Linked DNA regions of Homo sapiens: region 1 is linked to region 2. A link means that fine-mapping ties the variant in region 2 to the expression of a gene that starts in the linked region. Tissue or cell type: monocytes after Pam3CSK4. Region 2 holds a variant in brackets; the other region holds the start of a gene. All regions are shown on one strand. Distances are between the middles of the regions. Region 1 holds the start of GRAMD1B (GRAM domain containing 1B). Region 2 overlaps GRAMD1B (GRAM domain containing 1B).

What was found. PIP is the estimated chance that this variant, and not a neighbour inherited with it, causes the effect.
Region 1: it holds the start of GRAMD1B, and the variant in region 2 is fine-mapped to the expression of GRAMD1B in monocytes after Pam3CSK4 (Quach 2016, PIP 0.91).

What each region holds. Positions count from the first base shown.
Region 1 is chr11:123,422,428-123,438,238 of GRCh38, reverse strand. It overlaps GRAMD1B (GRAM domain containing 1B), which reads right to left and starts at 7,970. Exons shown (of 20, transcript NM_001387025.1): 1 at 7,073-7,970. The coding sequence starts at 7,446. It overlaps LOC124902776 (a long non-coding RNA gene), which reads left to right and starts at 7,025. Exons shown (of 2, transcript XR_007062928.1): 1 at 7,025-7,292; 2 at 9,423-13,163. RefSeq lists silencers at 7,343-7,392, 7,503-7,832.
Region 2 is chr11:123,444,373-123,460,183 of GRCh38, reverse strand. The region is part of intron 1 of GRAMD1B (GRAM domain containing 1B); the gene reads right to left. Among named protein-coding and RNA genes, the nearest start is that of GRAMD1B, 22 kb to the right of the region's middle. The variant G/A (reference allele first, on the strand shown) is at 5,781.

The sequences.
Region 1 (15,811 bases), 22 kb after region 2:
ACTTCAGGTTCCTCAGCTGGAAAACCTGCCTGGGGGGACCGAGGCATTGTTGTGAGGATTTAATGTGATAATGTATTTAAGGCTGCTTGGCAGAAAACTTGGCACAAAGTAAGACCGGTCCCTGCCCTCAAGGAATTATGAATCTGGTGGAAGTTTTTGCCAGTTAACCCTATCCAGCACCGATCACTTACTTAATCCACTGACCAATCATAGGTCTCCTTTGCATTTGTTCTTTGCTTTGTGTTAAGAAGGACATGAGTTTTCTCTCTCCCACACTTCCTGTGCTTCTCATATGTAGCAGGGCACACACAGAGCGGAGAAGCTACACCAATAGTGACGGGGGCTGAGGGGGAGAGCATTCAGATGCACAAAATCACCCTGCTCTCCTGGAAATGGAGCTGAAACCCGAAACAAGTCTCCCTCCAAAGGTCAGAGGAAGGAGATGAAGAATCAAGATAAATATACCAATGCTGTGTATTCATTACAGGCAAACCACACGCCAGCTAGGCTGGCACCAGAGAGATGACCTAGCCTAGCATGCTGGGCACAATTAGTGAGCGGCACTACCAGTGGTCAGACATGGAGCTAAGTGGAAACCCTGAGGCCCTCCACTCTCTAGCCGCCAGCCTGCTAGACTGTGAGCAGTCATGACGGGGGTAGGTGTGTTATGTAGAAGAAGGGACATAACAGCCAGGTGAAAGATGGTACAAAAGATAGTAACAGTGAAGGTATACTGGGCAGAGATGCAGAGAGGTGCTTCTGCATCCCCTAGAAAGAGCCTGCAGTTGGCCACCACCCAACTCACTCACCCGTCGTCAGCTTTCCCTTCCCCCTCCAGAGAGTGATGACAAGAAGACATCCTGGGAGATGTGGTTTCATCTAATTTCTGAGTTTTCTGAACCTAGCAATTCAGAGAAGGGTTCCAATCCTCAGTTTGGGTTCTGAACAATCACCACAACCAGTTTTGGGCAAGGAAGTTAGAAAGACATGTGAGTATTAATGCTAAGAGCCTGCCCCATCAACTGCAGGCTACGCTATTCCCTGAGCTCAGAGGGCAACATGGCCAGCAAAAAAATTGTGCCATCTTGATAGACTGGATTAAGAAAATGTGGCACATATACACCATGGAATACTATGCAGCCATAAAAAAGGATGAGTTCATGTCCTTTGTAGGGACACGGATGAAGCTGGAAACCATCATTCTCAGCAAACTATCGCAAGGACAAAAAACCAAACACCGCATGTTCTCACTCATAGGTGGGAATTGAACAATGAGAACACATGGACACAGGAAGGGGAACATCACACACCAGGGCCTGTTGTGGGGTAGGGTGAGCGGGGAGGGATAGCATTAGGAGACACACCTAAAGTTAAATGACGAGTTAATGGGTGCAGCACACCAACATGGCACATGTATACATATGTAACAAACCTGCACATTGTGCACATGTACCCTAAAACTTAAAGTATAATAAAAAAAAATTGTGCCGTCTTATGTTCAATGGTAGTTAAGATGATGCTTTGCAGTTAGACCACTGAAAGAAAAGAGCAAGACTCCAGGCCTTCACCTCCCCACGCTTCCTCCCCACTACACGGAACAGCAGAAAGTAGTTGCCTCGAGCAACACTTTGAGAGTGTCTCTCCCAAGCTCCAGAATCTACGACAGCTCCTCATTGAATTGACTTCACTTTGCCTAGGAAGCGCTCTGCATATAGGATCTCAATACCTGTTTGATGACTGAGTGATTCATTGAAATTCAAACTCTTTGGCATAAATCACCTTCGGTCTGTCAGCCTCACCACCTTCATTTTTCCACATTCCTCAACAAGATCACATTTGGTCATCCATCTCTATCTTCAAGCCAACACATCCAAACTGCTTTCACCTATAGGCATTTGTTAACCCTTCAAAACTCAGCTCTCTATAGATCAGTGGTTGTCTAGGGCTGGGGAAATGGGATGGAGAGGGTGAAGGTGCTAGCCAAAAAGTATGAGTTTCAGTCAGGCACAGTGGTTCATGCCTGTAATCCCAGCACTTTGGGAGGCTGAGGTGGGCAGATCATGAGGTCAGGAGTTCAAGACCCACCTGGCCAACATGGTGAAACCCTGTCTCTACTAAAAATACAAAAATTATCTGGGCGTGGTGGCGAGCTTCTGTAATCCCAGCTACTCAGGAGGCTTAGGCAGGAGAATCACTTGAACCCAGGAGGCAGAGGCTGCAGTGAGCCGAGATTGAGCCACTGCACTCCAGCCTGGGTGAGAGAGGGAGACTCCGTCTCAAAAAAAAAAAAAAAAAAAAAAAGTATGAGTTTCTTTGTGGGGCAACAAACGTTTTTAAAAACTGACTGTGGTGATGGTTGTACATAGCTGTGAATATATTAAAAACCACTGAATTATGCTTTAAATAGGTGAATTGTATATTATATAAATTATATCTCAATAAAGCTGTTTTTAAAAACTCAGCTCTGTACTCATCTCCTTTTGGAAATTTTCCCACACTCATGAATAAAAGAATTTCACTTTAAACAGTAGAGAAAAAGGAATCATTTATTTACTCATTATTAACTCATCAACAAACATCTATAGATCTATAGATCACTGTAAGAGGTCAGGTACAGTGCTGTGACGATACAAAGATGAACATGATTGGTCTTGGAGTATTCCAGTGAACACTGGAAAGTTAGTAAGCCATGCTGTCTTTACCATTTGTTCCACTTCTTCCTTCCTAGGGTTTAAGGAGAAGAAAAGGGTCTCCTAATCCTCTTCATATTTTCAACTTTGTGCAGTGAAAATCCGCAAGCTTGAGCTTCAAGTCAGTGACAAGTAAAAAAACAAACAAACAAACAAATAATGAAACAAATAATGAAAAAACAAAAATTAAAAGAAATCCACAAGCTATGGCCCTCTCAGCCACTTAACTTCTACCACATCACGCTGAATTTCATAGCAAGCCTGAAAGGTGTTTTTCTCTCTTTTGGAGCAGGAGATTTGGGGTGGGGAATGTGGAGACGTCATGCTGGGCCTGGTATGCTAATCCTCCCTAATCCAGGCCAGAGCAGAGCCATTTTCCAACCATCATTTCCAAATCCTGAATTGTGTGAGGAGGCTCAGGTGCTGCTCCAGGACACGTGAGTATGTAACCTCATACTTTTAAGCAAACATCCATTCCATGTGAGAGACTCACAGAGTAATGAAATAAGCCTTCACCCTTGCACAGCAAGAGGAAGTTTGCAAAACATTTTCACATTCACTACTCTTCAGACTTCCCATTAACCCACAGAGATCCTCTTCCACAAATGAAGAAGGTGAAACTCATGGAGGTAAAGTGAAATGCTCAAGCTAATCTCCATAGCTAATCGATGATAGAACTTAAATATACAGCTGTCTTCTGATATTAAGTCCAATGTTCCCTGCACTCCATTGCCTCTAAATGCCAATTCTATTTTCTTTTGGAAATGGAGTCTTGCTCTGTCGCCCAGGCTGGAGTGCAGTGGTGTGATCTCAGCTCACTGAAACCTTTGCCCACAAAGTTCAAGCAATTCTCATGCCTCAGCCTCCTGAGTAGCTGGGATTACAGGCGCGCACTACCATGTCCAGCTAATTTTTGTATTTTTAGTAGCAACAGGGTTTTGCCATGTTGGCTAGGCTGGTCTCGAACTCCTGGCCTCAAATGATCTGCCTCCTCAGCCTCCCAAAGTGCTGGGATTACAGGCATGAGCTACCACACCCCGCCACCAATTCCTTCTCAGGCCACTTGGTGGTATCTACGAGCACCTATTCACTTGATTGCTGCTTTTCTTGGAAGGAAGCCTTTCATCTTCGAGGCCTAAAAATGATGGGGCTTTGTTTTACACACAATCCAAATAGATTCCAACAGAAGGCAGTATAACAGTAGCTAAGAGTAGATGTGAGTCACACGAATTTGAATTTGAATCCAGAGTCTGCCTTTTCAGATACATATGTTCTTGTTTTTTGTTGGTGGTGGTTTTTTTTTTTTTTTTTTTTTTTTGGAAACGGAGTCTCACTCTGTTGCCCAGGCTGGAGTGCAGTGGCGAGATCTCGGCTCACTGCAACCTCCACCTCCTAGGTTCAAGCAATTCTCCTGCCTCAGCCTCCCGAGTAGCTGGGACTACAGGTGTCCACCACCACACCTGGCTAATTTTTGTATTTTTAGTAGAGACGGTGTTTCTCCGTGTTGCCCAAGTTGGTGGCTAACTCCTGAGCTCAGGCAATCTGCCTGCCTCATCCTCCCAAAGTGCTAGGATTACAGGCGTGAGCCACTGCGCCCGGCTGATACATAGGTTCTTCTAATCCAAAAGTCACCACTTAAAATAACTGCCTGAACTACATCTAGATGAAAATCCTGCCAAATTTTAAGGATATGTCCCCAAATCCAACAAAATGAAGGTTCCACTACACACATAGACAACTCTCGAAACCAGGAATACCTTCCTAAATCTAACCAAATCTACTGTCATCCCCATCCTAGCCAGCAATGCAAGATTTTTTTCTTCATACACACAAAGACACACACACACACACACACACACACACACACACGCACGTAACATTTTAAGCGTTGGGGGTGGGGGTCTCACCATGGCTGAAATGCAGTGGTTATTCACAGGCACCATTATAGCCTACTAAAGCCTTGAACTCTTGGGCTCATGTGATCCTCACACCACAACCCAAGTAGCTGGGAATACAGGCCATGCCATTGCACCCGGCTCTTTTTACCATATTTTGTCCTCAGTATATATGGCAGAATCTCAAGATCAAAAGAAGGTCTCTTTTAGTTTCTTTTACATTGGAGGGAAAAGCCGACAAGCCATGACAAACTACTTTATTTATTTATTCATTTAAGATGAAGTTTCGCTCTTGTTGCCCAGGCTGGAGTGCAATGGCGCGATCTTGGCTCACTGCAACCTCCACCTCCCGGGTTCAAGCAATTCTCCCGCCTTGGCCTCCCGAGTAGCTGGGATTACAGGCACCCGCTACTACACCTGGCTAATTTTTTGTATTTTTAGTAGAGACAGGGTTTCACCATGTTGGCCAAGCTGGTCTCGAACTCCTGACCTCAGGTGACCCTCCCGCCTCACCTCAGGTGACCCTCCCGCCTCAGCCTCCCAAAGTGCTGGGATTACAGGCATTAGCCACCGCCCCTGGCCTGACAAACTACTTTAGTTCAAGGTTAGCTCCCACCAAGCTTGCCCCATTTCCCTCTACTCTGTGAAAAGGGTAGCAGGATGAAGTACCAAACAGAAAGAACTTCTATCCCCAGCGTCCACAAAAATCCACGGAACAAAGCTCTGTATCTGCACCTGCTGAGAGAACCATGCTCAGTTGTTGCAAACAGAAAAGATAAACTCTGGAAGGCCCAAAATGCCCATCTTCTGCATAACGGATCCTACTCCTCAGTCCCCACCCCGCAAAGACACATGGCTCATCCTGTTTCTCCTGCCATTCTTCATATTGTTCCCTTCAGCCAGTCTTATGCACCCAACCTCATTCTTTTCCTGCTGTTTTCTACTACCCATCTGTATTTGTCATGGTGTCAGCCTCTTCCTTCAAGAAGTCTTCCTCTACTTCTCCAGAACTCTCTCTTTTCTAGTACAATCAGTACCACACAGCACAGTATGTTTTCCAATGGCTCCCACAGGTCTTCAATTTTTTTTTTTTTTTTTGAGACAGAGTCTCACTCTGTGGCCCAGGCTGGAGTGCAGTGGCACAGTCTTGGCTCACTGCAGCCCCTGTACCCAGGTTCAAGCGATTCTCTTGCCTCAGCCTCCCAAGTAGTTGGGATTACAGGAGCCTGCCACTACACCCAGCTAATTTTTGTACTTTTAACAGAAATGGAGTTTCGCCATGTTGGCCAGGGTGGTCTCGAACTCCTGACCTCAAGTGATCCACACGCTTCGGCCTCCCAAAGTGCTGGGATTACAGGTGTGAGCCACTGTGCCCAGGTGTTCATTTCTTATACAAGCCTCCCCTCATCTTCCTTCTCAGCCTCTACAACCCCTTACTCTACCTATCCTTCCCCCACACCCTCCTCAACATCACCACTATTAGCTGTTACTAGACTGAGCTCACAGAAATATTCAGTAAGTACTTACTGAATTGAAATCAATGTAATTGAACAGATTTGGAGAAGGAATTCCAGGGAAAGTGATCAATGACTCAGTTGCTCCGCACAAGAACACAAATCCATTAAGAGACAGGACCCTAAAGTCTCAAAGTAAATATGTAGGATTCGTGGTACCGATGAACAAGTGAGGACTCCCTGCCCTCCACCAGGCAAGGGGCTTGGCTCAGACACAACTTCCTGAAGCAGCAGTCCTGACCAGGGCTGTGTAGAGCTGCTCTAGGGCGCCCTGCAGCAATTCTCTACGTGAGGGAAGCTCAACCTTCTCCCATTACCCAGATGCCACATTGACCTAGGCAAAAAACTAGCTGGTACAAACCACAGTCTTGTAGGTATCGATGTCTAAAGACTCTGATATGGTAGGAAATGTGACTCACTCAATGTCAATATTTCACTTCCACACAAGTGAGCCAGTTAAGGCAATCCGGTGTGGCCAAACATAAAATAAGATTGAAACGGAGTCCTGAAATATAAACCACTTAACTGTTCTCTGGCCTTTTACTATCTCCTTCTGTAGAAAGGGAGCCATAGTAATACCTACCTCAGAGAGTTTGCGTAGGGATGAAATCTGGAGGTACATGAAGTGCGCAACATAGTGGCCCGCACATGGTAAGGGCTCAATAACTATTAGCTGTTATTATTTTTATTATTTATTTCGCTGCGAGGATCAAGGGAGATGGAATGCAGCGTAAAGCCCCACGTAAACGTGTCGTGCAACATGAAGCCCCTCACCCTGAGTTGGGGAGCGGGTGGCACGCGTGGAAGCTGAATGCCACCATCCCTGGGACCAGGCGCAGCGCCCTCCAGAAGCGCCTCTGGTGACGGGCTCCTGTTCTCCCCCAGGACGTTTCCCCCAGAATGCCCCGGGGCCCTGGACGGCTCTGGAGAGGACGGGAGGGAAGGGAAGGAGACGGGCGGAACGGGGACGTACCTGCTTTCACTGCACTCCTTCCGCTCCCTCACCCTCAGCCACTTGCGGAGGAGGAAGCGTTTTCGGCGCGGGGACGCGCTGGGTGTGGAGCAGTTGGACCACGGGGTGTCCTCGTCGCTGGAGGGCGTGATCTCGATGGACGGCAGCTGCAGGAACTCCTTGCCGGGGGCCAAGACGGCGGGCAGGTCCCGGGCCAGCCCGGCCTCCAGGCTCTGCTCCTGTACGTTCTTCATGCGGCGCATCTTGAAGCGCCGGCGGCGAAGCGTGGGGGTCGACGAACTGGACCAGACCGGGCTGCCCTCGGGCGCACCCTGCGGCTCGGGCACCTGCAGGGCGGGCAGCGGCCGGTTCTCCATCATGTTGGCCGCCGGCATGGGGGCCGTCGCCTCTGCGCTCCCCCTGAGCCCTCCGCCAGCGGCCTGGTTCGCGTCTCCCTCTGGCTGTTCCCCACCCTCGGCCCCGCGGCACACTCCCCAATCCTGGGGCCGAAGGAACAAGTTCCTTTCCCGGAGCGCAGCGAGGAAGGGACGCGAGGGGACGCGGCGTAGCGCGCCGCCGCCCGGAGTCTAACTTTTCGGAGCGCGCGTCCTCCGGGCCGTCAGCCGCCGGCGAGGCCACCCGGGAGGGGCGGGAGCCGCCTGCCAGCCACTCGGCAGCCCTCCTGGGGCTCCCCTCGCGCGCCCGCTTGTTTTTCTTCCGCTGCGCTTCCTCGCTTGCTGGCGTCTTTGCCTTAGCGGGACTCGGCAGCCAGGGGCCCCAGGGGGCGGTGCAGCAAACTCTCAGCGGTTTGCGTTCAGCAGACCAGGTTGGGGAGCCGGCTTGGCGCTGCAGGGAGGTAGAGAGCGGGAGGAAGAGGCAGTGGTAGGAGGGAAAGGGAGAGAGAGACAGAGAGAGAGAGAGAGAGAGGAAGCGAGACACTGGATAAAAACAAAAAAGGAGGAGGAGGAGCGGGGGCTGGGGGCGGGGTGAGGGGGGCTATCCTGAATGGGCTAGCACTGGCAGCGACCGCTAGTGTAACTGTACACGGATTCCCTCGGGGAGGGACTCGACCTCCAAGTAAAGGCTGCTCCAATCAGCCTACTGAAATAGGATCACAAACCAAACTTTCTCAGGGCAACGATTGGCCAGGCAACTCCCATTAGTCGAACTCGGCTATTTCCTTGGGGGTGGGGGGTGCAGAGAAAGGGGAGTCAATGAATTCAGTCCTCACTCTCTCAGGCCACCCATGATACAGGGTTGAAGGAAAATGAGGAGACTTTTCAACTAGCTCTTGTCTCCTAAGAAAGGCAGTTTAAATTATTTGGGGGCGTGAGTAGTGGCACTGCAGGCCGGAGTATAGTCAGAGGAGGAAAGCAAGGTTGCTGGAGGCTGCTTCCAAAATGACAAGCTGAGAAGAGGACAGTTCTCCCGTGGCGGCGTGAGCTGAGGATACCAGACATGACATACCAAGGAAAGACAGACAACAGGGTCTGAGAGACAAAGGACACAGGACCAGTAAGGAAAATGGGGCCTGAACCCTGTACATGAGCCAGCTGCCAGTACCATAGCCGCGTCCCTAGCAAAGAATGAAATGAGGAGTCGGTGAGCACCCACAAAGCAATGCATCCAACAGAGCCCCAGGGAGTCGAGGGTACCCCCCCTTACATTGCTGAGGGCTGATTCAGTTCTGCTTCAGCCTGCCATGGACTGAGTCACAGAATCCAGTATGTCCCCATGTCATGGAACCTAGGAAGTCTGGTTCAGTCCTGGTAGCATCCCAAGATGTGCTGAACCACACTCACTCTCTAGACCCAGGCCCTAAGAGATCATCAACCCTAGAACCGATCCATCCTATTTAGGTGCTCTCTGTGGGCACTGAGTCTAACCCAGCCCAGCTCCTAGAGCAGGGCTGTAGCAGCCATTCTCCTCCTTCAACCCCAGCCCAATGCATTTGTCTCTTGGGTCAGTAACTGTTTTGTTTTGTTTTGTTTTTAAGAGACAAAGTCTCACTCTGTTGCCCAGGCTGGAGTGCAGTGGTGCAGTCATGGCTCACCGCAACCTTGAATTCCTGGGCTCAAGCTGTCCTCCCAGCTGAGCCTCCTGAGTAGCTGGGAGTACAGGTGCGCACCACCACACGCAGCTAAGTTTTATTTCTTTTTGTCGATATGAGGTCTTGCTATATTGCCCAGGCTGGTCTCAAACTCCTGGCCTCAAGTGATCTGCCCACCTTGGCCTCCCAAAGTGCTGAGATTACAGGCATGAGCCACCATGCCCAGCCTGGTCAGTAACTTTCAAAGAGATCATGAGAAGCACCCAAGAACATACCATGAAGTCCACAATCTGATCCACCCTTCTTTTCTGCCTCTCTCAGAGTCCAGTTTCCATCTGGGAGCCAATGCCCAGCTTCCGTGCCAGGACAAAAGTCACATTTCACAAGTGTCCCGAAGCTGAGGAAAATTCACATCCCTAAAGATCACAAGAATTCACTGCAAGTAAATACATCCCTGCAGTTCAGCAAGACATCAAGGATGACAGCTGGCTATGGATCTACCAAGCTCTGCAATGACACTTGTCAAGTATGGAAAAGCTCAAGGCATCCTGACATTACACAACTTTTGAGAGGCTGGGAAACCAAGGGAAATATTTCTTCCTCAGGGAGAGAGATACTGCGGCTGAAGAGCCAAGGCCAGGCCCTCCCATAAATGACTCCCTGGAATGTCAGCCCCCGTTTCTGAAATCCAGCCACTGGCCCTCTCAGGAGTGATTTGGTTTCACTCTACTTTAACTCCTGGACATAGCACAGAAAGCAGAAACCCCTTGCCATCAGGTGTCAGGCCTGCCAAGGTCACCTCTTCCGGCTCCAGGGATGCTGAGGAGATTGCACTGTAACTCCAAACTTCAGGATCGGGAGCTAAGCCAAGTTCCACAGAGTTTGTTCACTGCCTTGTACTTCCTCCAAGGACGAGTGTTTTGCAAGGGATCTGATAACTTCCCAGTTCAAGGAACCTGAGTTTTGGGCGGGCTCTTGACATAGAAGATGAGGGTCTCAGGGGCTTATGGGAAGAAAGGAAGCCAGGACACCACCATTCGCTTGGAGGCCAAAAACACAAAAGGATGGTCCACAAGACAGGGGCCAGAAGATTCTATGGGCAGCTTGGGAAGAGGGAGAAGAAACAAGGGAGGAAGCTTTAAGTTTGTTCTGGGCACTCTGAATTTAAGTGTATACCTCTTACAAGGAAGAAAAGCCACCAGCACCCTCTTCCCACACACTTCAGCCACTTTTCCCACTCACAGTAGATTCTGGAACTGAAATCCTGTGAGATTTAATTCAAGCCTTGGGCACAGCAGTGGCTAAGAGTGATCATTTACATTTCACCCGGCCTGAGGGAAAACCTCCAAGCAGGAATCTAAAATGTTTCACTTGATTGGGAAGCAGATACCCTGAGCTCTCTTAGCCTGAACGCTGTCCTTACTCACTTGCACCTGCAGTCCCTTCTTTTTTTCAAGCCATAACCCTTTTGACCGTTAAAACCCTGTTCAAAACACATCCTTCAGCCCTTTCCAGCTGTTTCTGTTGCCCATGGCTCTGGCAAGTAAGATAATAAATGAGGCACTGCTTTGAAATATGAAATGCCCTACAGCTGTGAGCCAACATTACTGTTAAGACTATAAGCTCCTTGAGAAAAGAATCAAGTTTCTCCTTCCTTTAATTCTCTCCAGTATCCTGTGCTTGTTATGTGTATGGTGACCTTTACACTTTTGGAAAGAGCTTTCATACATCACACTGTGTCTTCCCAGCGGCCTTTACAATTGATGAAAGTGGGACAGAGAGATTCAGTAGTTTATCCAAGGTCACAGATAAATGATGATGGCTAATCAATGACAAGGCCAGAATTGGAACTCATGCCTTCTGAAGCCAGTTTAGAGGCCTCCAAAAGTGTAGAGAAACAATTTCTCAAAGTAGCTGGTGCCAACATCAGAACCAAAGAGTTTTCATGCCCTGCGTCAGAATCTCAGCGATTGCACTTGCTCCCCAAGTCTCCCCACTCCCATATTTCTTCTCTCCAATATTTGGCTCTCAGCGACCGCACAGTTCTCTGTGAAACAGACCTCACCTTTGCCCCCATTCCCCGCTTCCCCAGACAGGTGGTAACCAGAACAACCCAGCCTCCCCTTTCCCCACCTGCAGCCAGGCCTCTGACTTTAAATGAAAGGAGGTCATATTACCAAGCAACTGTTGTTTATTCTCAGCTGCACAAGCTCCCTTTTCCTACAGACACAAGACACCCAACACCTGTCTATTACTTCTGGAGACTCATAAACTACTATTATTATTCAATTTCCAGGGGAAAACTTTAGTGAAACATAGTAGCTTCCAGACTAGATTTCTCCTGGGTACACATCCAAGTAAATGTGAACTGGAAGGCGCTGGCACCCCGGACACCTTATTGCACCTGCTCCAGGATGCCAAGGCAGGGAACTCCCAAAGACACAGGAATGTCTCCCCACAACACTGTTGTTGCAAGACAGACAATCCCCACTCTCAACACTGGGACACAGAGTCTCTCCCCTACACAACATTCGAACGGCCAATCCCAACGGTTGGCCCATTATGAGGGAAAGAAGCAGGCAGTGAGCATAGAAGAAGTGGAATTTGAGGCTGGCAGGGAAGCTGGAAATACGGACAGAAACGTGGATGATGCTGAGAGCAATGTTGACTGTCTTCAAACACACAATGAAGGATGGCCAGATTTCACTCTGCAGCTCTCATTTTGCTGCTGAGCAAGAGGAAATGCATTTCTGTAGAGTGCAGCATGGGGGATTTGGGATAGATGATAAACATTTACCGAGTGTAAGGCTGGTTAAGGACTGGCCTGAATGACTAAGACTGGGTAGAGAATGGCTTTCTCTGTAGGTCTTTTAAAGGTAACTGGAGCCTACTTAGAGGCAGTGGCAGGAAAGAGATGATCTCTTAAAGGCCCAGCCCACCCTACTACTGTGGGTCTCTAAGACCCAGATTGTTTCTTTTTAAAGTAGAAGCAATTCACTTACACCTAAAACAAAGTCTGTTTGAGCTGACCTGTTACTGGCTCAAAGGCATTTTGATCACCGGATGCTAAACACCTCCCTGAGACCCACAAATAGCTTTAATATCTTGCACTGGTGAACTAGAAATACAGGGATCAATTACCAGGATGGTGCTGAAGCAAGGAAGTGAGGGTTCGGGGATGAAGACAGGAGAAAGAATTGGAGGGAATAACTTAAACTCCTCCCCATGGTATCTCCTTTTGTTTCTTTCACGAGTCCTCCCTTCATTTCCCCAGGGAGGGGCTCACTACTTTAAGAAGGGTCAGAGGATGCTGCACTGAATTGGTGTGGTTAGAGAAGCAGTGTGGAGGAGGAGGCTGGTGCTGGTTAAATACAACCTAAATCAAACCACAGTTGACCAACCACCACATCCAGCTTCTCCTTCCAAGGAAAAAGGGAGAAAATGCTTCAGGACTTTGATGGAGACTCAGTTTCCGAGAATAGAGCCCTGGGCAGTGCTCTCAACCTTGGGGAGTACACAGGGTCAGCTCTTTGTTTCCAACAGCCCTCACAGGGGCCAGGGTGAGCAGTGACGTCACCTCAGGAGAAGGACTGTCACCAGATAAGCCTCCTTGGTTTAATCGCTCATCAAAAGGCTTAGGCGTCAAAGAAGAATGTTTTGCACAATATTTGGCTGCCCTTGTACTTGACACCAAGGATACCAAGGCACAGAAGGACATCATCTCTTGTCCTCTAAATCTTGCAAGGACTTATGTGCAAACCAGGGCTGCAAAAGACTTTCTGAGGTCGCCCCACCTGTCCTTGGCTGCCCATCCCAAGGAAAGCAGGTGGCATGTGCTGGAATTTCTGCTGTTGCTTTCCTCAGAAGCATTGCAAAATATCATCAGCTTATACTAACTACCGACTAGTGATTGAGTGTGCAGACCCAAAATCAAGCCACCTGAGTTTTGGACCTGTTTCCATCACTTGCTAGCAGTTTTATTACGGTTAAGTTATTTAACTTCTCTGCAACTCAGTTTCTCATCTGAAAAATTAAGTAAATAAATAGCATCTCCTTGCTGGAGTGATTGTGAGCATTAGTGCTGTGTAGGGCACTTAGAACAGAGTTTGGCACACAGTAAGTGCTCCATAAATGTTAGCCTTTGTTATGTATAAGTTTCCTTTATAATACCCTTCGTAGGAAACAGGACTATTCTTGTTGATTTTCAACTCAGTTTAATTCTACAAGTAGTTGTTACGCTAGAACACTGTGTAAAGCTCCTTGTTCAGGAAGTCCTTGGGATATAGCTAGATAAATAAGATACACATGGTGCATTGGAGCACATGATCCCTCAAAGCAGAATTAATTAAGTGCAAAATACAAGTGCACAAGAGGTGTGACTGGAAAGATTGATAAATTTTAACTAGAGGAAAAGAGGTAGTCTAAGCAGGTCCTATGGAGGAATGGGTATTTAAGTTAATACTTCAAGTCAGAATTTCAATAAAAAAGAATAGGGTGTTAGCAGTTTGAATAAAAGCATTGAGGAGTGAAAACTCACAAAGAGGTTTTGAAAATAGGAAAAGATAAGTCAGAGCATAGGGTGAGACATACAGGATTAGACAATGAGGCTGGACAAATGAGGGGTCAGATTGCAGTGCAGAAGGGTTTTTGGTTGGTTGTTTGTTTTTAATTAGAGACAGGGTCTTGCTATGTTGTCCAGGCTTGTCTTGAACTTCTGGTCCAAAGGGATCCTCCTATCTCAGCCTTCCAAAGTGCTGGGATTACAGGTGCGAGCCACCACACCTAGCCTAGTGTTGAATTATAGATTTTATTCTTTAGGCAAGGGTTGCTATTCAGATTGGTTTGGGTTTGGTGGTTTTCTTTTTTCTTTTTTTTTTTTTTTTTGGTGTTGGGGGACTGCATTACTAACCTGTATTTGAGAAGCATCAACTCTGGTGACAGCATGAAATTTGAATTGGAGAAAAAAGCAGATGGGAACCATAAAAACCAATTAGGAGACTATCATTCAATCAGCCAATATTTTTGGAATATTGACCATATGAATGGCAAATAGTTCTGGTAAGAGATGGAGAAAATCTGAAATAGGGCAGGGGAAAAATGTGGAATGAGAGGAGATAGGCAAGGAAAAGGAGGAACCTCTGGAAGAAAACCAAGAAACAGCAATCACTGGGAAGCCGAGGGGAGAAAGGAGGCGTTTATTGCATGGCTACACTAAGCCAGGCGCTGTGCTGAGTGCTTCACCCACAAAATCCCAGCTGACTCTTGCAACAACTCTGAGAAATAAATATCAAAAGCCCTATTTCAAGATGATGAGAGATTTTACAAGGTGACTTGCCCAAGTTCACACAGCTAGTAGAAGATGAACACAAATTTAAACAAGGGTCTCTTTGCTTTAAAACTTATACTTTTTAAAGTATACTACATTTCAAAGAGATAAATGATGCTATATCCTATAATGAAGTCAGGCAGAAGAAAGACAGAGATAATTCCATTAAATTTTGTAATTAGGTCATTGATGACCTCTGAGACAACAATTTCAGTAGAGTGGTCAGAGAAGAAATGAGATTGCTATGGGTTGAAGAGTAGTTAGGGAATGAATTAATGGAAGCTGCAAGATTAGACTGCCCTTTCCAGAAATTAGTCAGCAAAAAGAATGAGGGACATCTATTTTCAAATAGTTTTTGAGCATCTACTAAGTGTTAAACATCCTTCTAATGCCTAGAGTTAGACTGTGAAAAGTTACTTGTGGTTGGAGTGGGAGCAAAAGGAGAGAGAGAAGAGAAGAGGAGAGAGGAGGGGAGTGGAGGGGAGAAGAAAGGAGAGGAGAGGGAACATTTGGGGTTGGGGATAAGGTTTTTTTTTCTTTTAATCTGTGTGTGTGTGTGTGTGTGTGTGTCTTATTGTTGGTAGATGTTATGTTTTAGAGGAACAAAATGTGACTGTATGATTATGCCATTTACAATGGAGTTCTGCCTATATCTGCTAAGAAAATTGGAGCTTCGTGGTGTACCTGGTAATCTAGCAAATCAATCAAAAAGTATTTAATCTTCCCAGACTCTAAGCATACCTTAATAGTAAGTAGTGTGAAGTTTCTGAAAAGTTTATGAAAAATGATTATTGCTTCCTACAAATATTTTTTGAATGCCTATCAAAGATGACTCTGGCCTCAGTTGCTTCAAATCTGGGGGAAGGGAGGAAGGAGCAGAAAACCAGTCCAAGAACTACAATTTGGTAAATTTACTTCAGGAGAAATGTGTACCAAATGCAGAGTGAACACGAGGGAGAAGGATCCTGATCCAGAGAGAATTTCACAGAGAAGACAGTACCTAGTCAAGGTTTGAACGTGAGCAGAGGCATTTTCCATGTTGAACAAGGGGGTCATATTTCCAGCAGAAGACCCACATGTGCAGAGGCATTGAGGCATAAAAGAAAGCATGGTTTGATCGCTTCTCGGCCTTTTGGCTGAGGTCAAGTGTAGAAAGCATGGTGTGTTATTGGAATTCCAAAAAGAACATTTGGAGCATAATGAATGTAATGAAAAAGTTTTAAAAACTAGAAAACAGTTGCCTGGTTTGTTCTGATAGGACAGCATGTTTGCCAAACACCAGAGAAATATTAGCCTTTACATATTATGTCAAGCAAAAAATTGGAATTACTTTTTATGACACAGGAAGAAGCTGAAGACGACTAGGCTGTATGGAGGATTTTCA
Region 2 (15,811 bases):
ATGGAGGCAACAGGTACTGGATAATTCAGGATATCGAGCAGAAGAAAACAGAAGTTGACTAATCCACAAACCATTTATTTTTAGTTTGAGAATTTTAATGAAACACACACACACGTATGTCCAATCACACTCCTGGCCTATATCCAATTAACTCTCTTCAAGTTCAGTTCTGGGACCCACTGAACTTGAAGGGACAAGGGTGAGGACAAGGACATAAAAATGGACAAGAACATAAAAAGGATGTTGATGCTCCATAAAGTAAATAATTCATTCACTCAGAAAACACTTTTTGAATGGCAATCTGTACACAGAAAACAGATGAGAGGCAAGCTTTGGGTGAGCCAGGTGTCCAGTGAGAAGGTAGCAGAACAAATTTACCTAAGACCCAGCCCTGCCCTCCAGAACCTCAGTGTGTGTTTAGGAACAGGACTTAAAGTATAAAGATAGTTGTGAATAACCAGTTCACATCATAGGGGAAGGGTCAACTAACAGGTATTTGAGTACCTAGTATATGGATTTTTTGCACACTATCTCACTTAAAAGTCAGTATTTGAAGAAAATAATATTCTTCTCTCTCTTTTTTATCAAACTCAATTCTTTTATCTTCAATTCCTTTAAATCATGAATATGGCCGACCACAGTGGTGCATGCCTGTAATCTCAACAATTTGGGAGGCCGAGGTGGGTGGATCATCTGAAGTCGGGAGTTGGAGACCAGCCTAGACAACATGGCAAAACCCCACCTCTATTAAAAATAGAAAATTAGCCAGGTATGGTGGCTCACACCTGTAATCCCAGCTACTCTGGAGGCTGAGGCAGGAGAATTGCTTGAACCCAGGAGATGGAGGTTGCAGTGAGCCCAGATCATGCCACTGCACTCTCGCCTGGGTGACAAAAGCAAAACTCCATCTCAAAAAAAAAAAAAGAAGATAAGGGTTCATGAAGATTTTCCCATGATCAGCAAATTAAAAAAAAATATATAGAAGTGTCTTATTTCTTTGCAATCAAATACCCCAATCTGCCCTAACTCCAAGGGCTGGTCACCATAACTATAACCCATCTACAATGCAGTGCATGTTCTTTGTCATCTACACAGCCTCTGCTACAACAAGCTCCTAGAAACACTTTTCCAAACTCATGGCTAGGAAGGCCATTGTGTCTGTGATTGTCTGAATATTCTGTTAACTCCGCTGTGTATTACGGTGTGCATTAAGCATTAAAGTGATTGTTCTCACTGAGCTCAGACTCAGAGTTGGGGGGAAATTACAGGAGCACAAAGGACTAGCCCCAAAAGAACCTCCACTTCAATCACCAAGCCATACCTGGAACTACCCATTTGCAGACTTGAAATTTGAAAATAACCCACCCGTATACACACTCTACATGTTGAGAGATACTTGTTCTTATCACTCAGAATGCTCCCATTCTCCTGGAATTTTTTGCCCATTACTCACATTGGGGAGTATGAAGAGGAGGGGAAAAAAAAAAAAAAACAAAACAGCCTTTCACTGTTTCCTTATCTAGGATACTGTTCATCCTATAAATCAAAAAAGGGATTTGCATCAAATTCTTTATGACCATTTTCTTCTCAGATTGATTTTAGTGAGAAGGTAATTGTGATGGTTAATTTTAGGTGTCAGTTTGACTGGATTAAAGACTACCTAGGAACCCGGTAAAGCATTATTTTTGGGCGTGTCTGTGAAGATGTTGCCAGAAGAGATCAGCATGTGAGTCTGAGTGGACTAGGTGCGGAAGATCCGCCCTCATTGTGAGTGGGCACCATCCATTCTGCTGGGGGCCTGGAAAACAAAAACTGAGAAAAGGTGAATATGTGAATGGAACTGCCAGAGTTGGATTATATTCTTCCTCTCTCTGTCCCTCAGTGGCTCTCTGAGTTCTAGGCCTTTGGCCTCAAACCGAGAGTTACAACATCAGCTTCTCTGGTTCTGAGGCCTGCAGACTTGGACTGAGCCACGCTACCAGCATCCCAGGGTCTCCGGTGTGTTGTGGGACTTCTCAGCCTCCATAATCATGTAAGCCAATTCCCCTAATCCCCTCCCCTCTCCTCTCTCTCTCTCTCAGAACTCCAACTAGGTTCTGTGTAGCATACATACGCACTTATCGTGGAGTCATGCATAAAGTGGTACTCATCTATTTAAAATATGTGGCAGCCAGGCATGGTGGCTTACGCCTGTAATCCCAACATTTTGGGAGGCCGAGGCAGGAGGATTCCTTGAGCCCAGGAGTTCAAGACCACCTTGGATAACATAGCAGGACCCTGTCTCTACAAAAAAGTGGAGAAATTAGCCAGGTGCGGTGGTGCATGCCTGTAGTCTCAGCTACTCAGAAGCTGAGGTAGGAGGATCACTTGAGCCCAGGAGGTCGTGGCTGCAGTAAGCGTGATTGCACCAGCGCACTCCAGCCCAGGCGATAGAGTGAGACCCCATCTCAAAAAACAAATACATAAAATAAAATATGTGGAAAATAGAGCACGGAGCACAGTGGAGCAATAGCACCAGAGCCAGGCTCATAAGGCTGGGTCCAGCACTGACTCTGTCATGGACTCCGTAGAACACAGAGCAAGTTGCCCCATTGTTCTGAACTTCAGTTTGCTTATCTGTAAAATGAACAGAGTGTGCTAGACAATCACATAGGCCCTGTCTAGCCTTAAAAGTCCCATGACGCTAAGCTAAGAAATCTTCCATTAAGCCTGTTTGAAGGCTAAGTGGAAGACACAAAGATTGAGAAAGAAGGGAGTTGCTGGCTATTCTAAAACACGTGAACTAAACCACGAGGGTAGGCTGACGCTGGCTGGACAGTGGGGAAAGAATAGCAGTCTAAGAACAAACGTGGTTTAGAGGCAGCTAACAGAGACACAGAAATGTGGCTTCCTGGTTCACTTCCTGTATGCTCATTTGATAAGTGTGTCCTTTAACTGTTACTCTCTTTCCAGGTTATCATTTTATAACAATCTCTAATTTTATTAATAAAATCATGAGCCGATACTTCACAGCAGGAAGGGATTCGAGGGATAAACTGTTCTAATTCTTTCTTTCTTTCTTTCTTTTTTTCTCAGAAAGGGTCTCTCTCTGTCACCCAGGTTAGAGTGCAGTGGTGCCATCACAGCTCACTGCAGCCTTGACCTCCTGGGCTTAAGCAATCCTCCCATCTCAGCCTCCCGAGTACCTGGGACCACAGGCATGAGGCATGTGCCACCACACCTAGTTCTTTCTTTCTTTTCTTTTTCTTTTTTTTTTTTTTTTTTGAGACAGAGTCTCCCTCTGTCGCCCAGGCTGGAGTACAGTGGCGCCATCTCAGCTCACAGCAACCTCTGCCTCCCAGGTTCAAGTGATTCTCCTGCCTCAGCCTCCACAGTAGCTGGGACTACAGGTGTGCACCACCACACCTGGCTAATTTTTGTATATTTAGTAGAGACGGAGTTTCATCATTTTGACCAGTCTGGTCTCAAACTCCTGACCTCAAGTGATCTGCCTGACTCAGCCTCCCAAAGTGCTGGAATTATAGGCGTGAGTCATTGCGCCTGGCCACACCTGGTTATTTTCTGTATTTTCTGTAGAGACGAGGTCTCATGACATTGCCCAGGCTGGTCTCAAATTCAGGGGCTCAAGTGATCTGCCTGCCTCAGCCTCCCAAAGTGCTGGGATTATAGGCATGCGCCACCACACTTGGCCCCAATTTTTTCTTTTTCAAACAGGAAACCAACAGCCCAAAGAAGGTAAATGACAAGTGTAAAGTCACAGAGGTATTTAGTAGCACTGCAAAGAATAAAACTCGAGTTTGCTGACTCTCGGGGCTCTTTCCACAACACCAATGCTGCCCTTAGAGAACAAGAATGTCAAACTCCTGGTGGGCAGAGAAGGCATCTGAAACTTTTTTCTTAACCCTCTGGTGCTTCTGCTGACAAGAAGGATAACTGTTAACAGTTGCTCATTCTATAAAATGGATATGCCATTGTTGAGTGTGTTGTTCTTTTTTGTTTTGTTTTGTTTTTGAGACAGTCTCTCTCTGTCGCCCAGGCTGGAGTACAGTGGTGCAATCTTGGCTCACTGCAACCTCCCTCCACCTCCCTGGTTCAAGCGATTCTCGTGCCTCAGGCTTCCGAGTAGCTGGGATTACAGGTGTGTGCCACCACACCCAGCTAATTTTTTGTATTTTTAGTAGAGACAGGATTTCACCATGTTGGTCAGGCTGGTCTCGAACTCCTGACCTCAAATGATCCGCCCACCTTGGCCTCCCAAAGTGCTGGGACTACAGGAGCGAGCCACCCCACCCGGCCTGGTTGAGTGTTTTCTATATGCCAGGCTGTTTTCTAACCACTGGGAACACAGTAATAAACAGATGGGGCAAAGGTCCCTGCTCTCAAGGACCTCAAATTCTTATGGTTTAGCAGAAGGGATGCAGAAATGAGAGACAGATCATCAACAGAGAAAAATAAAAGAAGATGATAATTTCAGAAGTACAAAGTGTTATAAAGACAATAAAGCTGAAGAATGTAGCCTCAAAAAAGCTAAAAAATATGTTAAGGGCAGAGAGTAAGTGGCAGAGCCTGGACAGAATCCATGCAGATCACTCCAGAGTCCGTGGCTTTGCAAACTATGCCGTATTGCATGGTGAGCGCAGCAGTTCGATAGCAAGTAGAGGATGAATGATCAATTGAGTGGAATGCATATCATCAGAAGGGGTTCCAGTGTAATTTTAATTTTGAAGGGAATTCACAAGCAGATTCTTGTAAAATCTGGCCAGGCGCGGTGGCTCATGCCTGTAATCCTAGCACACTGGGAGGCCGAGGAAGGCAGATCACTTGAGCCCAGGAGTTCGAGACTCCTTACTATGTTGCTAGGACAACATAGTAAGACCCTCGTTTTTATAAAATAAAAAATAAAAATAAATTCTAGTGAAATCTGTTTTGATTTTAGTTCATCCTAAGGAATCTCTACCTAGTCATAATAGACACAAAGATTATAGTTTAATCAAATATTTTTCCCTCTCATCTCTATATGTTGGGCAAAAAATAGACTTAAATGTTCAATTTCCTACTTCCCTAAATATTAAGTAGGGCTCTTATACATCTTACATGAAGTACATATTCAAACAATACTTGTCATTGATGTTGATGGGGATAAAACATCACAAAACTAGTAAAAGACTAAGTGCTCATAAAACATCCTTCAGATATAACAAGTTAAAGCATTTCTTTAAACATAAGAATTACATGCACCTAGTCCCACAAATACAGCCTCACTAAAGATGGAATAAGCATTTTAGGGGACATGTAAAACCAGTCCTATTCCCACATATGTCTCCTATCTCTCAGAGGCAATCTTTAAATCTTACCTTGGTTCTTCTTTACAACCTCAGACTTTTCTAAGAAAAGTTCTCACTCTGTATCTTCTCAGTAGCATCAAGAGCATCTTCTCCCCTAATTATAACCCACTGTCACTCATTTCAAATTTGGAAGACACTGCTGCCCTCTATTCACTTAGGGCCCTCCGCAGAGCCTGGTGGCAGTACTGCTTAAGCTGACATCAAAGTTTCATGAAGCCATTTTATAGGAAATTCAGCACAAGGCAAGATATGCAGAACATCCCCATGGCTAGTTACTCATCCCCTGCCCTTAACCATGAGAAGGGCAGATCAGGTTCCAAAAGTGCACCAGGAAATACTAACAGACAATAGAGCCTGCGTTGGCTGATCACGGCACTAACCACTCTCTAAACCGCTGTCTTTTCCAGGTCTGCCAACCCCAAATGACTCAGCAAA[G/A]GTGCCTGGCAATGACGAAAAAACAACGCAAGCCCTGGGGCCTGTCCTTCAGATCAGATAAGCTTGGCCCCAAATGACACCCATATGAAAACACCTCCTTCTCTTAAATTTAAAGGGGAGAGGGACAAAGGAAGTAACCAGGAAGTGAGTATCTACAGGATGTCAGGAAATTGGAGAGATGCCTTATCTTATTTCATCTGCAAACCAGTCTTCAAGGTAGGTATTATCATGATGACCAATGTGTGTAAGAGGAAGCTGATGATGCAAAGCTGCCTGCGGAAAGAACGCTTGTCCCAGTCTGGAATTTTACTCCATGGAAGCAGGATTGAAATTATTACCAGGATAAAAGTCACACTCAGCTGCTGGGAAAGTATTTACCCTGGCCTTGCTAGAGGTGGGGATAGGTGAGGAACAGTGTTGGCATGGGCCATTATCAACGGGATTTTACAAAGATACAGAGCCTTGGAAGAAATAGAAACACATTTCTGTTTCTTAGCTGTCCCTGATCACCCTCGAATTCACAATCAGTAGCGACCTGGGACTTCAGATGCTCCATTGCTCAGCCCTCTTTGGGTTTACTTTGTCCTCCCCTATAATAAAACAGGCAAGATCCAGAAATCTCCCTGAGGTGCATAGGTTTGAGTCCAATTGCTGGTATTAAAACAAGTATCATATGCAACAGGCAAATTAAAATTTCTTTCTGAAATTTGAGTCAGTATTCCAGGACCAAAAAGTACTTAGCCTGCCCTAAGGAATATCCAGGTTTAAAAAATACATACCTATATATTGCCAGGCACGGTGGCTCATGTCTGTAATCCCAGCACTTTGGGAGGCTGGGGCAGGAGGATTACTTGAGGTCAGGAGTTCAAGACCAGCCTGCCCAACATGGCGAAACCCCGTCTCTACTAAAAATACAAAAATTAGCTGTGTGTGGTGGCGCGTGCCTGTAATTTCTGCTACTTGGGAGGCTGAGGCATGAGAATTGCTTGAACCCAGGAGGCAGAGGGTGCAGTGAGCCAGGATTGCACCACTGCACTCCAGCCTAGATGACAGAGTGAGATTGTCTTAAAATAAAAAGATATATATACTTGCATATACATATATACTTATATTTAATATATATTGATGTGTATTAGATATATACATATATTTATTAGAAAACGTTTATGTTTCTGCATGTATATATTCCACTGTATTTTTCAATTTAAGCTGGATTAGAGGTTTGGAGTTATTTGCACACTGACAATTGTTTCTTCCTAACCTTCTAAGGATACTGTTGAACTGATCAAGACCATGAATATGAGTCATTTCCAAACTAGCCACCCAAAAAGGCCTTAAACTAGTCATTAATTAAGGTAAAATGCTCTAGAACTCTAGATTCTCCATGGTTATGAGGAACAAGGTCAGAAAAATGCACTGAAAGTAACACAAAATTATCTAAATATTGAATTCTTTACTTCAGTGGTGCCTGTGAAACACAAGACCGAACTTTCACTTCCCTACCCCTTCTTTCCTGGAGAAATGAAAGGGAAGCCTGGTGGTTCTACATCTGGCAAAAAGGGAGAAGAGAAGCAAAAGGCCTGGTTAGAAGAGAAGCAAAAGGCCATGGCCAGAATTCCCTAGTGAGCAAAGCCCCAGACATCTTTGCCTATTCTGTGAAATGAATGAAGTAGACCTAATATTGAGAGTAAATAGCTTCTGTTTTCCAAAGCAAAATGTCTATCCAACTCCACTTATTAAGGAAGGTCTTTTTTTTTTGAGACAGAGTCTCACTCTGTCACCCAGGCTGGAGTGCAGTGGCACCATCTTGGCTCACCGCAACCTCCACCTCCCAGGTTCAAGCAATTGTGCTGCCTCAGACTCCCGAGTAGCTGAAATTACAGGTACCCATCACCACGCCTGGCTAATTTTTGTATTTTTAGTAGAGACAGGGTTTCACCATGTTGGCCAGGCTGGTCTCGAACTCCTGACCTCAGGCGATCCACCTGCCTCGGCCTCCCAAAGTGCTGGGACTACAGGCATAAGCCACCATGCCTGGCCAAGGAAGGTCTTCTACCAGAAAAAATGTCCTTCACAAGATCTGGCTAATTGCCAGGATTACCAAATGTAACAGTTACTGCTGTCCTCTTCTTAGATGCACTTGTCACATTTTTATTATATGTTTTTCCTTTAAGCTCTGTTGGACTTGACTGTCACATTTTAAATTTTTACATTTGTTCACAATTACTTGCACTGACTGCCTAACGGATGGTCAAAAAAATCTGCTGTCGGACTGGGTGCAGTGGCTCCCATCTGTAATCCCAACATTTTAGGAGGCCAAGGAAAGAGAATTTCTTGAGGCTGGGAGTTCAAGACTAACCCGGAAAACATAGTGAGACCCTGTCTCTATAAAAATCTAAAAAATTAACTGGGCATGGTGGCACGTGCCTGTGGTCCCGGCTACTCAGGAGGTTGAGACAAAAGGATCACTTGAGCCCAGGATTTAGAGGCTGCAGTGAGCTATGATCATGCCACTGTACTCCAGCCTGGGCGAGAGAACACCACCATACATACATATATATATATAATCTGCTGTCAAACAAATGAATGAATAATAAATAAACTAGACTACATCTTTCAAGAGAAGAAGCCAGCCACACCTCAGTGGCCAGCACATAGCAGCCAAGCAACAAGTGCTGGCTGGCGGGATTTGGACTCTCCTCTCTCTGGCAGCCTGACTGTGTAATGTGTCCCTCCAAATGGGAAGGGGAGCAGGGGAGGTAAAATCCAGTCAAAGCTGTTCACAGAAGCTGCTGCTTTCAAACAGTGGAGCACACCGAAACTGCTAGTTAAAATGTTTGGTCTTTATGTTTCATTTCCTGTGGATTTGAATTACCCACACTGTCAGCATGTATCCATAAGCCTCAGTATAATGTCAGATACAACACACGTATGGTACAACAAAGAAAGGGCCCTAAATTAAAAGTGACATGACACAACCTCTTTTTGAGTCTGGTTTCTAGCATTACTTAGCTGTATGGATGTGGGCATATTTCAGAATCCCCATTTCCTTAAGTGCCAGGTGGGTCTACTCATTACATCTGCCCCACAGGATGCAGGAACAAATGAGGTAATAGATTGTCATGCCATACGCTTGTCACTGGACATCCTGGTGTGTGCCAGTGCTACAGCAATCACAAAGAATAATTATACCCTGTCCCTTCCGTGGGAGAGCCCATGGCCTGGTAAATTGTTTTGAAAAGGTAAAGTGCTACTCAAATTAAGAGATTGTGATAAATTGCTATTGTCTGCATCATTTTCATTTGTGTCCTTGTGAGTGCCATTCTCTGCCACCCTGATGGGACGCTCCCAACAGCAGGTATCAGTACCCCCTCTTTCCTCTCTACCTTCCTTCTTGGAGCCCAGTTTAAGGTACCGCACTCTGTGGTAGCTTAATAAATGGCATTCCCTGCCTGTTTTCCAGGCTTTCATTACACTGGATAATAAAGGGCCATTTCTGGCAGCTCTTTGGCTCTTGGCTTCTGTTAGTGCCAAGAGACTCCCACAAACACCAGAAGAGCAACAGCTTTGACATCTGACAGCTGCAGAGAGACCCAGCTTAATCCTGTCATCTCCCAAGGTCTTAGATGATGTCAGAGCACCAAATGCATCTGCATTCCAAAGTGCCCACACAAATCCAATGAAGTCCCACTATCAGTGGGAAGAGAGTCAGCTTCCCACATTTAGCCACCAGCTCCTCCCCGCTCCCATATCGCTCTTCAAAGCAGTATGGAAGACACTTCTTTTACAACTCTTGATTTCCAAATTTTAGAAAACAAACTAATTCCCTTTCAGTGATGTGGCCAAATAATTCGCTTTTAAACAAATAGGGACCAATATTGCACTGATAATTTGCTGACAGTCTCTCTACCCCACTAGAGAAGCCCCTGTAGGGCAGACTCTATTTTGTTCACTATTATTCCTGGTGTTAGGAACGGTATCTGGCATGTAGTGTATGTTCAATAAATGTTTGTTGGATTAGTTAGTTGGGGAAAAAAGGTGGAAGGATGCATATATTCCAAAATCCTCTTCCCCTGCAGGAGGAACAACTGTTGCCCTGACCTGGAATCAGAAGACGAGAAAAAGTATTGCATTACCATGGCAACCACAGCTCCAAAAATAAATGCTCTTCAAAACTGTTATGGGTCTTTGGTGGGGAAAAAAACCTAACTGCTGTTTGCAGACTATACCAGGGCCCTGGGTCCACCATCAAACAAAATATTGTTCCCAATGTGCTTGTGCTCTCTGGAACCTCATTTTGGGAAAGACTGATCACTCTCCACCTAACTATGCCAAGTTTGGCTCCCCTGAATAGAGACTACCTTTAGAACGGCAGTCTCTGGTTCAGGTGTGGTGACTCATGCCTGTAATCCCAACACATTGGGAGGCTGAGGCAGAAGGATCCCTTGAGCCTAGGAGTTCAAGACCAGCCTGGGCAACATAGCAGGATCCTGTCTCTACAAAAAGTAGAAAAATCTAGCCGAGCATAGTGGCACATGCCTGTAAACCCCAGCTACTCAGGAGGCTGAGGCAGGAGGATCACTTGAGCTTGGGAAGTTGAGGCTTCAGTGAGCCATGATTGTGCTACTGTGTTCCAACCTGAGTGCTGGGTGACAGAGTTAGACCCTGTCTCAAAAAAAAAAAAAAAAAGCCAGGCATGGTGGCATGCATCTGCAGACCCAGCTATTCAAGAGATCAGGATGTCAAGGCTGCAGTGAGTCAATATCTCACCAGCAATCTCCACCCTGGGTGATATATGAAAAAATAAAAATAAAAAGCAGTGTCTGCTCTCTGGGCACTTACTAAAGACTCAGAACCCAGTTAAAACCAGAACAGAAACCAACAGGTTAAAGACAGACAAACAAGCCAATACATAATAGTACAGATTTACATAAATGGCATATGAAGGGGTAATTATTCAGCTTCAAGAGGACTCCTTGCTTTGCAAAATGATTTATCGTAGAATTCCATGAAAATCGAATTTCCTTAGAGGCTTTCATCATTTGATTATTCATTCATTCCCTAAACACATGCTTACTGAGCTCCTACCATGTTCCATGCAAAGAGCTTAGCAGGCACTGAATAAAACAAACACTGAATAAAATAAACTCTGCCTTCAGTGTGTAGGATCTAATAAACGATACAATGCGAGCACGTTATCACACTCCAGTGCAGGATGCTTCAGAAACACAGACATAATGAAGACCTCAGTCAAGAACCATTCCCTAGAGGAAAGGCTAACTAAACAAACGAAAAGGCCTTACGGTGGCAAAGTAGGTCAGTGTTATGAAAAAGGAATTCTGTCTGACGGAACAACGTTGATGAAACCTGGAAATAAGAGAGCATCCCATTCATGGAACTAAAAGGTCAGACTGGCTGGAGGCAGAGCACACAAGAGCAGCAGGTGGATGAAGCAGGAGGGGAACAGAAGTGAGGTTATGAAGACCTTTCTGGCTGCAGAGAGAAGAAGCACAGGAGAGGGGCTGTGATGGAGTCAGGATGCTTGTGTAATACACGTGAGAGCCGGCTATGGTGATGGAGCTGAGAAGGCAGGCTTGAGGAACATTTGCTTGGAGGGAGAGAAGCCTCGTGAAAACAAAAAGTACCAAGCCCCAATGTAAGTAACAGAATGGAGGGAACTGGTTTGAAGGGAAAAATAATGAGTTCAATTACAAAAAGACAAGCTGAGTTTTGAAGAACATCGCAGTGGAACTGCCCATTAGTCAGGTGGAGGTATAAGCCTAAGGCCCAGGAAAAATATGAGGTCTCAGACAGGAATAATTAAAGCCAAGAGAATGGATGAAATCGCCCCAGGACAGTATATGGATTTAGAAGTAGAAAGTGGAGGCTGGGCATGCTGGCTCATGCCTGTAATCCCAGCACTTGGGAGGCCAAGGCGGGCGAATTGCTTGAGACCAAGCGTATGAGACCAGCCCGGCCAATATGGCGAAACCCCGTCTCTACCAAAAATACAAAAGTTAGCTGGGTGTGGTGGCACACACGAGAATCGCTTGAACCCAGGAGGCAAAGGTTGCAGTGAGCCGAGATTGGGCCACTGCACTCCAGCCTGGGCAACAGAGCAAGACTGCCTCAAAAAAAAATAATAAAAAAATAGTACAAGGGGGAGGGTGAGAAAGAGAGTGAGCGAGAGAAAGGGTAAAAGGAGGAAAAGGAGGAGAAATAAGAAGAAACCTGGGGCCAGGCTCTGTGGACCACACCTGGAAGCCCAATACTTTGGGAGGCCAAGGCAAGAGGATTGCTTGAGTCCAGCAGTTTGAGACCAGCCTAGGCAACATAGCAAGACCCTGTCTCTCTCTCTCTCTTTTTTTTTAAATACATATATAAAAGAAGAAACCTGGAGTCGGAATCTTAAGCAGGCCAACACTGAAGGGACATACAGATGAGAGCAGCCCTTAAACTATAAACACTAGGTTAAGATAACTATTGTGGGAGGTTAAAAAAAACAAACTAGGTTTACAGGCAGTTTTTCAGCACCCATCAATAGATCAGAAAAGCAACATCTCATAAATAACCAAAGAAGGAATAAATCACTCTTCCAGCCTCCACTAACCAGAGAAGCAGACTTGGAGGCCTCATAGATAGGCACAAATGTCTTTGCTTTTGTAAACTAATATATGCATTAGCATAACTCTTCAGACACATGTGCTTAATTTTGTCTAACAAGATGAAACAGAAATGTACACTCTCCATTTTATAATCTCACTGAGGCCCAGAGAGAGTGAGTAATCTGCCCAGGACCACACAGCGAGAAAATTAGCAGAACCAGAGCCTCCAACCCATGCTGCCTCAGCCTGTCTCTAGGACTGGTGCTGGGGCAGTCGTCCTAGGAAAAACTGTCACCCTGTCCCCACAGATGGAGGGGCCCAGCCTGAGCGTCATGACTCACTGCCTGAAGATACGGCTCCTTCCTGGATGAATATGGGCTCCCTGAGAAACACAGTAAACTGAACCCTTGTTCTGGTTGCCGGAGACCTGTATTCTAGATCCACCTCTGTCACTGACCAGCTTCATGGCCCTAGACTTCTCAGTTTTTCTGAAGGTGGAAATAATTTCACAAATCCCATCTACCAGGATGACTGGATTCTCTGAGAGACCCGTCTGTCTGACAGAAACAGGTGCTGACAGGTGGCAGCTGAGTGTGAGTGAAATAGGTGAAGATTTGGTAAAATCAAGGCCCTAAGCCCCTCTTCTCCTCTCCCACCCAGCAGATCCTGTCCTCAGATCAATTTTTTTTTCATGCTTTAGTCTGAATGCCATATGCCACTGAAATTAACTTTTACATAGTGATCTCCCACACACTCAATTGGGAGCTCCCCAATGGAAGGGACATCTGTAACCATCTTTTCTTGCCTTTCCTGCCTTTCTTGCCTCTCTTTCTCTTTCTCTCTTTCTCCCTTTCTTTTTCTTTCTTTCCTTTCTTTTCTTTTCTTTCTTTCTTCCGAGACAGGGTCTTACTCTGTCACCCAGGCTGGTCTCAAACTCCTGGGCTCAAGTTATCCTCCCACCTCAGCCTCCCAAGTAGCTGGGACTACACGCACACACCGCCATGCCCAGCTTGCATCCATTTTTGTATCCCAAGCACACAGCAACAGTGCCAGGTTCCCAGTAAGCGCACAATAAGTGTCTGATGAATCGTGAGAATTACCTCTCCTGAGTTATCTGCATTTTCAGTCGCATCTCTCTGGCAGTGAAGCAAAAGGCATTTTAAGAAGCAATCCAAGCATGGAGAAGGCACTTCAGAGAGAGAGAAATTTTCAGTGTTCTGAGAACTTTCTGAATGGGCAGGCGACTGTCCTCTCTGTTAACCTCTAAGACAGCCCTGCCTTCAAACATACATGGCTGACAATGGCTGAAAACTCCTCCAAGAAGTCTGCAGAGGGCTGGGCGTGGTGGCTCATGCCTCTAATCCCAGCAGTTTGGGAGGGCAAGGCGGGTGGATCACTCGAGGTCAGGAGTTCGAGATTAGCCTGGCCAACATGGTGAAACCCCATCTCTACTAAAAACACAAATATTAGCCGGGCGTGGTGGCACACACCTGTAATCCCAGCTACTCGGGAGGCTGAGGCGGGAGAATCTCTTGAACCTGGGAGGTGGAGGGTGTAGTGAGCCGAGATCATGCCACTGCACTCAAGTCTGGGCGACAAAGAGAGACTCCATCTAAAAAAAATAATAATAAAAGAAGTCTGCAGAGGCTCACAGACCCTACTAGAGAACCAGTGAGGTCCAAGTACAAAGCCTGGACCTTCCTCGGAATCTGGAAGCAACAGGCCAAGCTGAGCAACAGTGAGTCTTGGGAGAAATACTCTCAAAAACAAAGATCCACTAGGTATTCTTCCATCTTCACAAAACAAGAGAACATGAGTGTGGATTGTACTGTGGGGGATTTCAGTTAGATCTTAGGTAGAACTTTCCCAATAGTATGTCTTGAAAACATAAAAAGATATAACCAAGAAAGACAGTGCAACCAATCCTCTTTCCTGGGGTTGTTTTTGTTTGTTTGTCTTGTTTTTTTTTTTTTTTTTTTTGGAGACAAGTGTCACTCTGTTCCCCAGGCTGAAGTGCACTGGCACCATCTCAGCTCACTGCAACCTCTGCCTCCCAGGTTCAAGCAATTCAAATCCACCTCAGCCTCCCGAGTAGCTGAGACTACAGGCGCGTGCCACCATGCCTGTCTAATTTTTGTATTTTGTGGTAGAGAGGGGGTTTCACCATGTTGGCCAGGCTGGTCTCAAACTCCTGACCTCAAGTGACCTGCCCACCTTGGCCTCCCAAAGTTCTGGGATTACAAGGGTAAGCCACTGCGCCAGGCCCCAGAGTCTTTTTTTTAAAGTGATATTTTCTGATCAGGAAGATGTGGTTCATCGTAGACACTGGTGGAGAAAACACATGTTGTCACCTAAGTTAAGGGCAAACTCTTCCAGGAGAAGCTCCACCCTGTACAGAATGACCTTTACGGTTGCCATTCCATCCAACCCTGAAAATCAACAAAAAGGTCAAAAAGAGCTCCAAAGTGTAATGATCCAGCCAGAACACGAATGCTCTCTAGATTAAGGCAGATTGCTCTGAGGGGTCAGCCTGGCACTCACTGACATTCCTGCGGGCAAAAGAACACGACAAGGTTAAGTGGCAGAAATACCTGACAACACTCTTCCCACTTTGGAGAAGCATCTCAGCCTGATCCTTCTCTAGAAATAGTGCTTCAGAAATGTACCTTCCTCCTTATTTCACAGACTTCCTGTAGTATGAGATGAAATATATTTGGTCCTTTCCTGGTTCTTGTCCCAGAACTCCTAAAACCCTTGGACTTTCCTGAGTGACAGAAGTGTCTCTTGTTATTTGTAATGAGCCCCATAGATAATACCTGAGTTTATGCTAAGAAAATGACTTAGGATACAGCCCCTGGGGAGCCTCAAGATGGGGAGGAAGGACCAAGAAAGACCAAGTGACTAGAGGATTAGAAGGTTGGATCTCTCAGCTCCACCTACAAACTTCCAGGAAAAGAGAGAGGGAGGTGTGGCTGAAGATCAAGCTCTATGAAAACTCTTGGACATGGAGCTTTGCTGAGCTTCTGGGTTGCTGAACTCGTGCAGGTGCTGGGAGGGTGGTGTGTCCAGGGTGAACACGGGAGATCCATGCCCCATCTAACCCCCTGCAATACCTTGCCCTGTGTAAACCAAGCTAAAATTCTAAAACCCCCAGCTGACTGAATGGACACCACTTTAGGAGACCCAAGGGGACCCAAAGAAAAAAAAAACTAATTCGGGCCATGGAAAGACGTGGGGGCTCAAACATGCCTCATTATACTCTCCTCCTTGTGGAGCTCAGGCACAACTGACCAGCTTTAACATGAAAACAGAATTTTTTTTTTTTGAGGCCCAAGCTAGAGTGCAGTGGTGCAGTCACAACTCACTGCAGCCTTAACCTCCCAGGCTCAAGTGATCCTCCCACCTCAGCCACCCAAAGTGCTGCGA